2 separate regions of the Homo sapiens genome follow, and region 2 is linked to region 1. Evidence: fine-mapped expression QTL. Tissue or cell type: monocytes after LPS. Region 1 holds a variant in brackets; the other region holds the start of a gene. All regions are shown on one strand. Distances are between the middles of the regions.

Evidence for each region. PIP is the estimated chance that this variant, and not a neighbour inherited with it, causes the effect.
Region 2: it holds the start of SETD5, and the variant in region 1 is fine-mapped to the expression of SETD5 in monocytes after LPS (Quach 2016, PIP 0.95).

What each region holds. Positions count from the first base shown.
Region 1 is chr3:9,418,385-9,424,419 of GRCh38, reverse strand. The region is part of intron 1 of SETD5 (SET domain containing 5); the gene reads right to left. Among named protein-coding and RNA genes, the nearest start is that of SETD5, 24 kb to the right of the region's middle. The variant T/AAT (reference allele first, on the strand shown) is at 3,588.
Region 2 is chr3:9,395,720-9,401,157 of GRCh38, reverse strand. It overlaps SETD5 (SET domain containing 5), which reads right to left and starts at 3,543. Exons shown (of 23, transcript NM_001080517.3): 1 at 3,181-3,543. It overlaps THUMPD3-AS1 (THUMPD3 antisense RNA 1), which reads left to right and starts at 4,535. Exons shown (of 4, transcript NR_132781.1): 1 at 4,535-4,598. RefSeq lists an enhancer at 2,676-2,725 and a silencer at 3,336-4,645.

The DNA of each region.
Region 1 (6,035 bases):
TGAACACACAGAATGGAATTCTACAGCTATATTATGTTTCTGTATACTGTCTTGTTTATCATCCTACATCTATACTATCTCGTTTACCACCCTACGTCCATCCGGCACTGAATTTTTTGCCCTTTAATTTTTTATTTTTCCATAAAGCCAGAAACGAGATGGTAGAGAAGGAAATTATTTGACTTAAATGGTAAATACTTATGTCACTGGCTAATTTTTCCTCTTCCTTCAAATTAGAATTATCTCATTTTCCAAGGGATCCCTTCTTTTTCTCTCTCCTAAAAGGTGCTTCCCTTCTTCACTGAACACTTCTCAAATTCAGAGTTCTTTCTTTAACCCGATGTCCGACAACTGTCCAGCCAGACAAGGGGCCATCATCACCCATTAAATTACAAGTCCATATTTATTACTCCTTTCTTTCCCTTCATTCCACACCATCTAGTTTCTTGTCCTACTATAAAAAAGAGTGATAAAAAGGAGTCAGTTCTATTTGCGGTCAAATGGAAACATGCTTAAAAAATGGCGCTTAAATTAATTTTCTACCTTCCAAAAAGGAAGGGAAAATGATCAGTATCCTTTAAGTCTCTGGTGTTTTTTCCTAAAAGTCAAATTTAACGCTAGCCAGAGTTATTAACACCTTAAAGATTAACATATCATAAACATGAAAAGAGCTATTCATAGGATTCCAGTTACCAAGCATTAGAACGCATGCATTTCATTTATGTTGATGTTTTATGATTTCTAATTTTAAAAAACTGGAAAATAAACTATTTTTTAGAAACGATTTAAAATAGTACACCCAGAATTAGAGAAATAAAAGTATCAAAGTAACAGTAAAAGGAAGGAAGAAATAAAGTAAATCAAGGAAGAAGCAATAGCAAATAAGAAAGAAAAAAAGGAAAGGAGGAAAACAGCGAAATAGATGTGAGTGTACAGTAGGGGGTAAATGAATGCATCACAGTTTCAATTTATTATTAATTTAACTATTTCCAGAACAATCCATCAGAATCCACAGGAACACTAGTAAGTTCTTGGATTCAGAAACAGACACAGCCTGTATCTTCCAGTAGTACCGAGTACTCTCTTTAGGAGGTGCCATTTACATACAGTTTCTAGGGAAAAGGATGTTAAATAGAACATGCCAGAAATGTTTCTTAATTACCCCATCTTTTTAATTGGTTTCAGAAATGGCCAACAGTCTCTGTATCATCATTCTGACAGTCTCTTCTCTATATGACTTGCTGAAAGCACAAGACCTGTATGATCTCCCTGGTCACTCACAGAGAAGACAAACAAAAAGTGTTTTATGAACAATTCCAACAGATTTCAGAAGAAGAAATTGCATCAGACAGGTGAGGCGGAAGCAGCTGGCAGACAAAAGTCCAATAAACAACCAATCCAACGAAAGAAATTCAGAACAAGTCTGCTTCAGTAATCCTGTGAAGAGGACTGGCAGGAAGAGGAGTGCCGCTTCAGAAAGAGAACAGGCCTCATATGCTTCAGACAGTCTTTGTATTGAGGCTGTGGACCTTGGCCATTCTCCCAGAAATGATGCAATCCTGATGAACAAGATCTGCTGCCAGAGAAACAATTGTTAACAGCCTATGCAGACAGCAACTCAGCCAAGGAGCAATCTCTGATCAACTCTCTCCATAAACCAACAGAACGCCAAAATCTCTCTTCCTCAATTTCAGTGTCTGACAAAACATAAAGTGAACACAGTATATATTAAGATACATAAGAACAAGCCATTTTCTCAAAGGGTCCTTTTTCTTTTAATTCCTTAGGCTGTACAATATCCATTATTAAATTTCAGATAAAATACTGAACATTTTTTACTTTTATAAATACAATTATCCAAGCACATCAATAGTAATAACATAAATATGAAAATTTATACTTATTTTCCTCATTCTCATAAGAAAACCTTTTTGGGAGGCAGTGGCTTCCCTAAGCATAAAAACTGCTCTGAAATCTATCATCCAGCTATAACATTTCAAGTAAACACAAATATACATACACTCTAATTCAGAGACAGAAAGTATATTTCATAGATATTTTTGAAAGTAGATAAAAGTCAATGTTAAATATTGGCATCTATCAGAGAAAAGAGAAAATCTAATCTTGCTTAGGCTGACATATAAGGTATGCTGATAACAACCACTTTTTTGCAGGGCAACAATATTACTTCAGATCTTACTAAAGGATCAGATTATTTTCATCTTATTAGCCACGATTTACTAATTTAGAATCTAACTTAAAAATATCCTCAATTTAATAATCTTCCCTAGAATCCTCATCTCCTAGGCCTGGTTTCTTTTTCAGAAGTTTTGGTATCAGGTTTTTCACACAGTATTATAAAATTATAAAAAGTTATTTTTTTCTCACTAAATAAAAGATCCTGTATAAAGCACTTCTCTAAACTTCAACTAGCCAAAAGTCATGACTAACCAAATTTCTTCCTTTTGAAAGCAATAACCCTTAAACTGGGATTCATGAAAAAACACAAATATCTAAGATATATCCTGAAATAAATCTATTCAGCCCAATCTATTACTTCTATATACTACTAAATAACGAAAATGAACAGATATACAGAATAGCTCTGAAGCACTAAAAAAATCTTTAATAGGTCAATAAATGAATAAATTTAACTCAGGAAGAGAAAACACTTTTTGGGAATATTTCAAAAGGGTTAAAGTAGCTAATAAGTTTTTAAAAATCCAATTTCTGAACTTGATTATTCAAAATTTTGTTGTTACATATAGGCTGAATTTCTTCTTAAATACATCTATAGTTCTTCGATTTATCTTTTGAATGACTTTACCTTGTATGAGAATGAATGTGGCAGCTGCATTATATACTTATCTTCATCTCCATCTCAAAGTCAAATATCTCAAGTAAAATCACCGTAGCTGTACCATGACAAACAGCCTTTTACCTTAGGAGAAGAAAAGTATGCTAGGAAAAAGCACTCTTAGAGGCCAGGTGCGGTGGCTTGCACCTGTAATCCTAGCACTTTGGGAGGCTGAGGCAGGAGGATTGCTTGAGCCCAGGAGTTTAAGACCAGCCTGGGCAACATAGTGAGACCCATCTCCTAAAAAAATAAAAAAAGAAAAGAAAAAAAAGGCACTATATTAGGAGTTAGGAGACTTGAGTTCTAGCCTACAACATAATTAGTGACCTCAGAAAAATCACTTTACATAGATGAACCCTAAATTCCTCAAAGTAAAATCTTCATTGTGTTGTCTTCCTGCTCCAAATTTCTATGAATCCTGGCACTGCTGCCAACTAGCTCAGGCAATTCATAGAATGTCTCAAAGTCTCAGTTTTCTCATCTGTACAATAAAAAAAAAAAAAATACCTGTTGTGCTGACTCATAGGAGCACATGGAACAGCATTTGTAGCAAGTAAGAGCTTAAATAACTTTCTGGTCCCTTTAAGTATATGTGAAGAAAGAGGAGCTGCTGCTAATAACCTGAATATGGCTAAACACTGTTTTTACTCTTCTCCAAAAGCATATATTTCAAGTTTGCTACAGCAGATAATGTGGAAAGAAAAAATGTGAGAAACATGAAAAAAAAAAA[T/AAT]GAGAGAGAAGTGTTAAGCATAAGAAGAAACAAATATGAGTTACTGGAAAACAAAGAGATGAACTCTAAAAGAGCACTTGGAGATACAGTGAAAAGTTCATGTATTTGGAACAGTAAAATTAGGCTTATAATCTGAAGCAAGTTAATGCAAGCAAAGAATTTTAGGGGTTCGGGACTGAAAGGAAAAAAGAAAAGAGAGAAACACTGATTGGGGTAAGCACTGAGAGACAGGAAACATCATGATTTAGTAATTTAAAGCAAAAATAAAAATTTCCTTTTCTCCCATCTCTTCTACAATACCAGTTTATTCCTTGATTCCTTTGCCTAAATTTATACTCCCTCTAGGAGCTACTGAGCTCGGCACAATAAACCGATGTCTATAAGAAATCTAAGTTTACTAGAATAAAAGGCCATTAAAAGACAACTGAAAAAAAATCCTAGTCTATATTAAGAATTTCCTTCTCCGTAAAAAACTTCATAATTAGTGCGTATTATAGAGACCAAGTCATACTTAGTAGTATGTGGAGCAGAAGAGGGGAGTGGCAGTAGGATAAGACTACATATCATAAATAACAGAATTATTATTATTATTATCTAAATATTGTGATCATAAATTATTTTAACACTGAAGAAAAATATTTTATTTACAACCCATTTAACAATGATAAAAAGGTATTTACTGCTCAACTAACCAACAATACACAGACTCTTTGTAACCTTAACAACAATCAGGAAGATTTTAGACTTCTAAGTACCAAATAAAGATGATGCCCTCAAATAATTTAGACTGACTAAACCTCTTTAAAGAGTTATACTCTCAACACTTTCTGAAGGTTCTGTTCTACTGTGTTCTGAGGCTCAGAACATGTGTTAGAGACCAATGTACCAAAGTAGAGTAGGAAAAGAACTTCTCATATCTCTACACGTGCCTCCTCTCTGTGAATTCAGATCTTCTTCATTTTCAAACCCCAAAATGGGAGCCACTTTTACTTACTATAGATGAAGTGGGTTGTGCACATTTATGAGCCATTAATATCTGTATTTTTACTTTCATTAATTTAAGCAAAATTTCTCCAACCGATGAACAAACAGAAATGAAGAAATAGAGCTACAAAAAGATTAACTTGTATGAAGTTCACTACACACCTACAGTAGTAAAGTTCAGAGGAAAGAAAATTAAGATGTTAATATATAGCTTGTTTATTATAGTAATTACTACTTACCTTAGATAGCAACATCTGAGTTATAACTAATTGTTTTTATTTTTATTTTTGAGACAGGGTCTGTCACTCAGGTTGGAGTGCTTTGGTGCAATCACAGCTCACCGCAACCTCAACCTCCTGGGCTCAAGCGATCCTCTCACCTTAGCCTCCCAAGTAGCTGGGACCACAGACGCATACTGCCATGCCCAGCCTTGTTTTTATTAAGTACCAATTGGTGCTATGTAAGACAATTAGGTCCAGATAAAATTCCTGGCTGTCTTGGGATTTATATTATGTAGATTTGCTACTTTTTTCATTCATTCATTCAACAAACATGAAGTAACTACTATTAATATACATATATTACTATGTTAAGTGCTATTTTAAGAGGTTTATTTTATCCAAAGTAGAAAAGGGTAGGCAACTTGCAAACTGTTCAGGTTTGCCTATGTGCCAAGTACTGCATTTATACAACCATGAAGGGGGAGAAAAATCCTGTAAGTGGGCCGGGTGTGGTGGCTCATGCCTGCAATCCCAGCACTTTGGGAGGCCAAGGCGGGTGGATCACCTGAGGTCAGGAGTTTGAGACCAGCCTGGCCAAGATGATGAAACCCCGTCTCTACTAAAAATACAAAAATCAGCCAGGCATAGTGGTGGACACCTGTAATCCCAGCTACTTGGGAGGCTGAGGCAGGAGAATCGCTTGAATCCAGGAGGTGGAGGTTGCAGTGAGCCAAGATTACACCACTGCGCTCTAGAAACCCTAAAATGAAAGTTATCTGCAAATTCCCAATGTTTATGTATGTGATTCACATTTTTTTTTTTTTGAGACGGAGTTTCGCTCTTGTTGCTCAGGCTGGAGTGCAATGGCAGGATCTCAGCTCACTGCAACCTCCACCTCCCGGGTTCAAGCAATTCTCTTGTCTCAGCCTCCTGAGTAGCTGGGATTATAGGTGCCCACCACCACACCCAGCTGATTATTGTATTTTTAGTAGAGACGGGGTTTCACCATGTTGGCCAGGGTGGTCTTGAACTCCTGGGCTCAGGTGATCTGCCTGCTTCAGCCTATGTGATTCACTTTTAAGACTACTACTGACTGGATGTCCTGTAAAGTTCTTACACACTAAATATTAGATCTTAGTTGCATTTCTACAAATTTGGGCTAGGAGCTTCAAAATAAACCCTAGCTGAAGCAATATTCAGAACCAAAGTACTTTCTTATAGTTGTCCTTTGACATAACCTTTA
Region 2 (5,438 bases), 23 kb after region 1:
GCTTTTATTACTGGGAAAACAATGTGAGCCACATTTGTGAATGACAAAACTCATTTCCATTCTTTTTGGTTCTCTGCCACAAATGCCAGAGTGATACTACAAATTATAGATGTTTGTGAGATTTAAGTACATTTACACGAAAATGAACAAATCAAAATTCTGAGAGAAAAAAGTATAGGATACACGAGTCTTGGGGAAGAAAAACAGCACACAGGAATATGTCCAGTATTGCATATAATTGGTGGTGGTGGTTCTCCTTCAAGTTTTTCCACGCTCAGACTGTTTTGCTTAATCAGAGATCATCCTAATGTTCAGGAGTTGTGGGGGAGGGGAGATCACCTAAGGGGCTCAGAGGCCATCTTCTCAGTATCCTGAACTAGACTTATTCGATTTCTGCATATTTCTTCTGGTCTGTCCTACATTTCAGATGGATTATGGCCAAAGACATATATTTGTGATGTCAGAAGGCTATATCCAACATGTATATAATGAATCAATCTTATAAGTCAAACTCCAAAGAAAATATCTAATCTGGAGAAGTTTATTACTAATATACAAATTAAAAATATTTATTTAGAAACCACTCCAAAATGGCACCTTTTTAGAGTTTAAGAGTTCAAGCTTAGTAAAATGTTTAGCAAATCGTCTATAAGGTAAATGTGGTCTAATCGAAAGGATGGAGACACATAACAAAATAATAAGAATTGATTCTATGATTAAAGAGATGGAGGAAGGCATGATATGTGAGCTGCAGGAAAAAATTCCTGTTATTTTCTTCCTATTGTGGTTATCAGAAAGATTCTTAAAATTATTACTTGGGTTTTTAAACTGATTGAAAAATTAAAACTCTAATGGAACTTTTAGTCCTATCCAAGCACAAATGTCTAGATAAAAAACAAAAATCTGCCAAAAAACAAAAATCAAATCAAACAAACAAAAAAAGAAAGGCTTTAACCATGATCCAGTTTCCAGATGCCAATATCCATAAATGGGTAGGAGATTATGAATTACTAATTCCCATCTCCCCACCAATAAAAAGCAAACCAGCTCAGCAGTGAAAATTCCCAGAAAAGCAAGGTTTCTTCTTAGTCCTGAAGCAGCCATCGCCTAAGTGCTGCTCCCTGCAGCCAGCAGCATTAATGGACGCTGCACTGCTGTCCTTCCCTGGAGACAGCAGCCAGCACTACTCAAGCTTCTCACGTAGCAACCAGAGCTCCAGAGCCAGCAGCTGCTGCTGCCTTGTATACTCACCCCTGTGATCCAACCCAAAGGAACAACCTTCTCTTTACCCCACCCCCACTCCTTACACACACTTTTTTTTTTTTTTTTTGGACCAGTGCTCCATGCCAGAAGGGCTGGAATTATGCTTTTAAGAAAGAAACAATCCTAAGGTCACCCTTTTAAACCAAGGCCTTTTATTAGAAAAATCAACATTTACCAAATTCTAAATATCCATTTTAATTAAGCCAGCAGTTTAGGAGTGAAGATTAAGCTTTGGTCTTTTGAAAGCCAATTTCCCAAGCACTCTACAATCTAATTTAAATTTGCAGCTAGAAACAGAGCCTTGTGTCATGTCCTACCAAAGGGCATAATTCATTTTTCTACACATAATGACAGTCTGAGTAAACCTTAAAGACTCTAATCCCATAACAGGCCAGAATTTTTGGCTACAGAAGAGAACTAATGATCCTGAGAAAACTGGAAGAAATCCAATAGAAAAAAAAAAGCCCTACGTCCTCTATGGAGCCCAGAAACCTCTGATTACGTGGGTATTCTCTGCTTTAGTCCTAGCTCAGATCCCACACATCTAAAATTACCACTTAGAACTTTCTGTGACCTAAAAACATTAATAATATAAAATTAACAACCAAAAAATAATTTCAAATAGGGAGTACACACTCTCCTAAAAAGCTCAGCACACTCCACTCAGCTGGATCCTCCCCAATCACAAGTATAGCTATGTAACATCTGTCCAACAAAGAAATGTAAATATGACCTTGGTCACAAATATGTCATCTAAAAACTTGTTTAGTCAACTGATGAAGGTAATTAGCACAGAACTTGGGGATTCGTTCAGTACCTATGTGCAGGAAGGAAACTGGAGAAATGAACTTAAATATAGACAAAGCCCAGTGGAACCCAGAGGTCTGGGAAAGAAATGAGTTACCGGTGAATACATTGCACAAGTAACATGAGAAAGCAGAAAATGCAGGTCATACACGCACCCCTGACCCAGACCAGCAGAGCTGACTGCAGCATCCATATCCAAGAGAAAGACCACTGACGCCCAAGAAGTGAGACAAGCAAGGACTCTATAGAATCAATTAGCATAGAAGGGGCTTTCCCAACAGTTTAACTTTCCCTCTCATGCGATTTACCTACTTGAACCAGGGCTCTTTCCTACACTCCTCTTCACATTCCCGACTTACACGCAGAGGGAAAGAGAATTCATAAAGGGAATATTTTTCTGCCTTTGAAGATATTCTCACAAGATCGTTCTCCACGCCCAAGGCAAGTAAAACGACACAATCTGGCTCAACTCCAGGCTCGAACCCTACACATTCAACGAGGCTATCTCAGACACGCTGTGGCACACGCCACGGGGAGCCAGAGAACGTGTGGTGGGGGTGGCGAAGGTAATGCCTTTGGGAAGCAGCCATCTGAGGTGGGAAGCCAGAAAACGAGAGGGAAGGCGTCCAGGAAGATTACGGAGGGGAGATCGCGGCCCCCAGAGCGATCAGAGTTGTCTGTCACAAGGCCGCGAGAACGGGGGTAGGGAGTGGGGGATCGGGGAGAGAAAAAAAGTATGCCTGTGTATTTCGAGCGGAGGGCAGCAAGAGGCCTCTCCTCAAGGGAAAGGTAAACGTGGAGTAGGCAGTTCCCAGGAAAGGGGGTGAAGAGGCGTTGGGGGAGGGGAAGCGTCCTGACCCAGGAAAAACATGAAAGGGGGAGTTGGGTCGCCTAGATTAGAGGGGGATCTCTCTCCCTGGGAAAATGGGGTGTTGCAACGGTGTGTGCAAGGCGGCGAGGGGGGTGAGAAGTGGCAGCATCCTCCTAAGAGCTTGGGGAGGGCCAGGCCCACGACCCAAGGAGAGCGAGCGCGGGGAGACGGAGGAGGTGACCCTTCCCTCCCCTGGGGCCCGATCGTGAGGTTCGGTCTCTTTTCTGTCGGACCCTTACCTTGTCCCAGGCGCTGCCGGGGCCTGGGCCCGGGCTGCGGCGCACGGCACTCCCGGGAGGCGGCAGGACTCGAGTTAGGCCCAACGCGGCGCCACGGCGTTTCCTGGCCGGGAATGGCCCGTACCCGTGAGGTGGGGGTGGGGGGCAGAAAGGCGGAGCGAGCCAAAGGCGGGGAGGGGGGGCAGGGCCAGGGAAAGAGGGGGGCCGGCACTACTGTGTTGGCGGACTGGCGGGACTGGGGCTGCGTGAGTCTCTGAGCGCAGGCGGGCGGCGGCCGCCCCTCCCCCGGCAGCGGCGGCGGCGGCGGCGGCGGCGGCGGCGGCGGCAGCTCACTCAGCCCGCTGCCCGAGCGGAAACGCCACTGACCGCACGGGGATTCCCAGCGCCGGCGCCAGGGGCACCCGGGACACGCCCCCTCCCGCCGCGCCATTGGCCTCTCCGCCCACCGCCCCGCACCCATTGGCCCACTCGCCGCCAATCAGCGGAAGCCGCCGGGGCCGCCTAGAGAAGAGGCTGTGCTTCGGCGCTCCGGCTCCTCAGAGAGCCTCGGCTAGGTAGGGGAGCGGAACTCTGGTGGGAGGGGAGGTGCGGTACACTGGGGGGATGGGTGGCTAGGGGGGCCGTCTGGTGGCTTGCGGGGGTTGCCTTTCCCGTGGGAAGTCGGGAACATAATGTTTGTTACGTTGGGAGGGAAAGGGGTGGCTGGATGCAGGCGGGAGGGAGGCCCGCCCTGCGGCAACCGGAGGGGGAGGGAGAAGGGAGCGGAAAATGCTCGAAACCGGACGGAGCCATTGCTCTCGCAGAGGGAGGAGCGCTTCCGGCTAGCCTCTTGTCGCCGATTGGCCGTTTCTCCTCCCGCCGTGTGTGAAAACACAAATGGCGTATTCTGGTTGGAGTAAAGCTCCTGTCAGTTACGCCGTCGGGAGTACGCAGCCGCTTAGCGACTCTCGCGTTGCCCCCTGGGTGGGGCGGGTAGGTAGGTGGGGTGTAGAGATGCTGGGTGTGCGGGCGCGGCCGGCCTCCTGCGGCGGGAGGGGAGGGTCAGTGAAATCGGCTCTGGCGCGGGCGTCCTCCCACCCTCCCCTTCCTTCGGGGGAGTCGGTTTACCCGCCGCCTGCTTGTCTTCGACACCTGATTGGCTGTCGAAGCTGTGGGACCGGGCCCTTGCTACTGGCTCGAGTCTCACATGAGCGAAACCACTGCGCGGGGCGCGGGGGTGGCGGGGAGGCGGGCGTTGGTACGGTCCTCCCCGAGGCCGAGCGCCGCAGTGTCTGGCCCCGCGCCCCTGCGCAACGTGGCAGGAAGCGCGCGCTGGAGGCGGGGGCGGGCTGCCGGCCGAGACTTCTGGATGGCGGCGGCCGCGGCTCCGCCCCGGGTTCCCACCGCCTGAAGGGCGAGACAAGCCCGACCTGCTACAGGCACTCGTGGGGGTGGGGGAGGAGCGGGGGTCGGTCCGGCTGGTTTGTGGGTGGGAGGCGCTTGTTCTCCAAAAACCGGCGCGAGCTGCAATCCTGAGGGAGCTGCGGTGGAGGAGGTGGAGAGAAGGCCGCACCCTTCTGGGCAGGGGGAGGGGAGTGCCGCAATACCTTTATGGGAGTTCTCTGCTGCCTCCCGTCTTGTAAGGACCGCCCTGGGCCTGGAAGAAGCCCTCCCTCCTTTCCTCCTCGCGTGATCTCGTCATCGCCTCCATGTCGAGTCGCTTCTCGATTATGGGCGGGATTCTTTTGCCTAGGCTTAAGGGGCTAACTTGGTCCCTGGGCGTTGCCCTGCAGGGGAGTGAGCAGCTGTAAGATTTGAGGGGCGACTCCGATTAGTTTATCTTCCCACGGACTAGAGTTGGTGTCGAGGTTATTGTAATAAGGGTGGGGTAGGGAAATGGAGCTTAGTCATTCACCTGGGGCTGATTTTATGCAACGAGACTGCGGATTATCACTACTTATCATTTTTGGAGCATTTTTCTAGAGACAGACATAAAGCATGATCACCTGAGTTTTATACCATTTGAGACCCTTGCTGCACCACCAAAGTGTAGCATCAGGTTAAATCTTAATAGAAAAATTTTAGCTTTTGCTTGAGAAACCAGTGCTTCCCTCCCTCACCCTCTCTCCCCAGGCTCTCTACCCCTTTGCATCCCTACCAGGCATCTTAGCAACTCTCACTCATACTTGATCCCATTTTCCATTTGTTGTACTTGCTCCTCTAGTATTCAGACATAGCACTAGCTTTCTCCCTCTCTTGATCTTGGGTAGCCTGGTGTC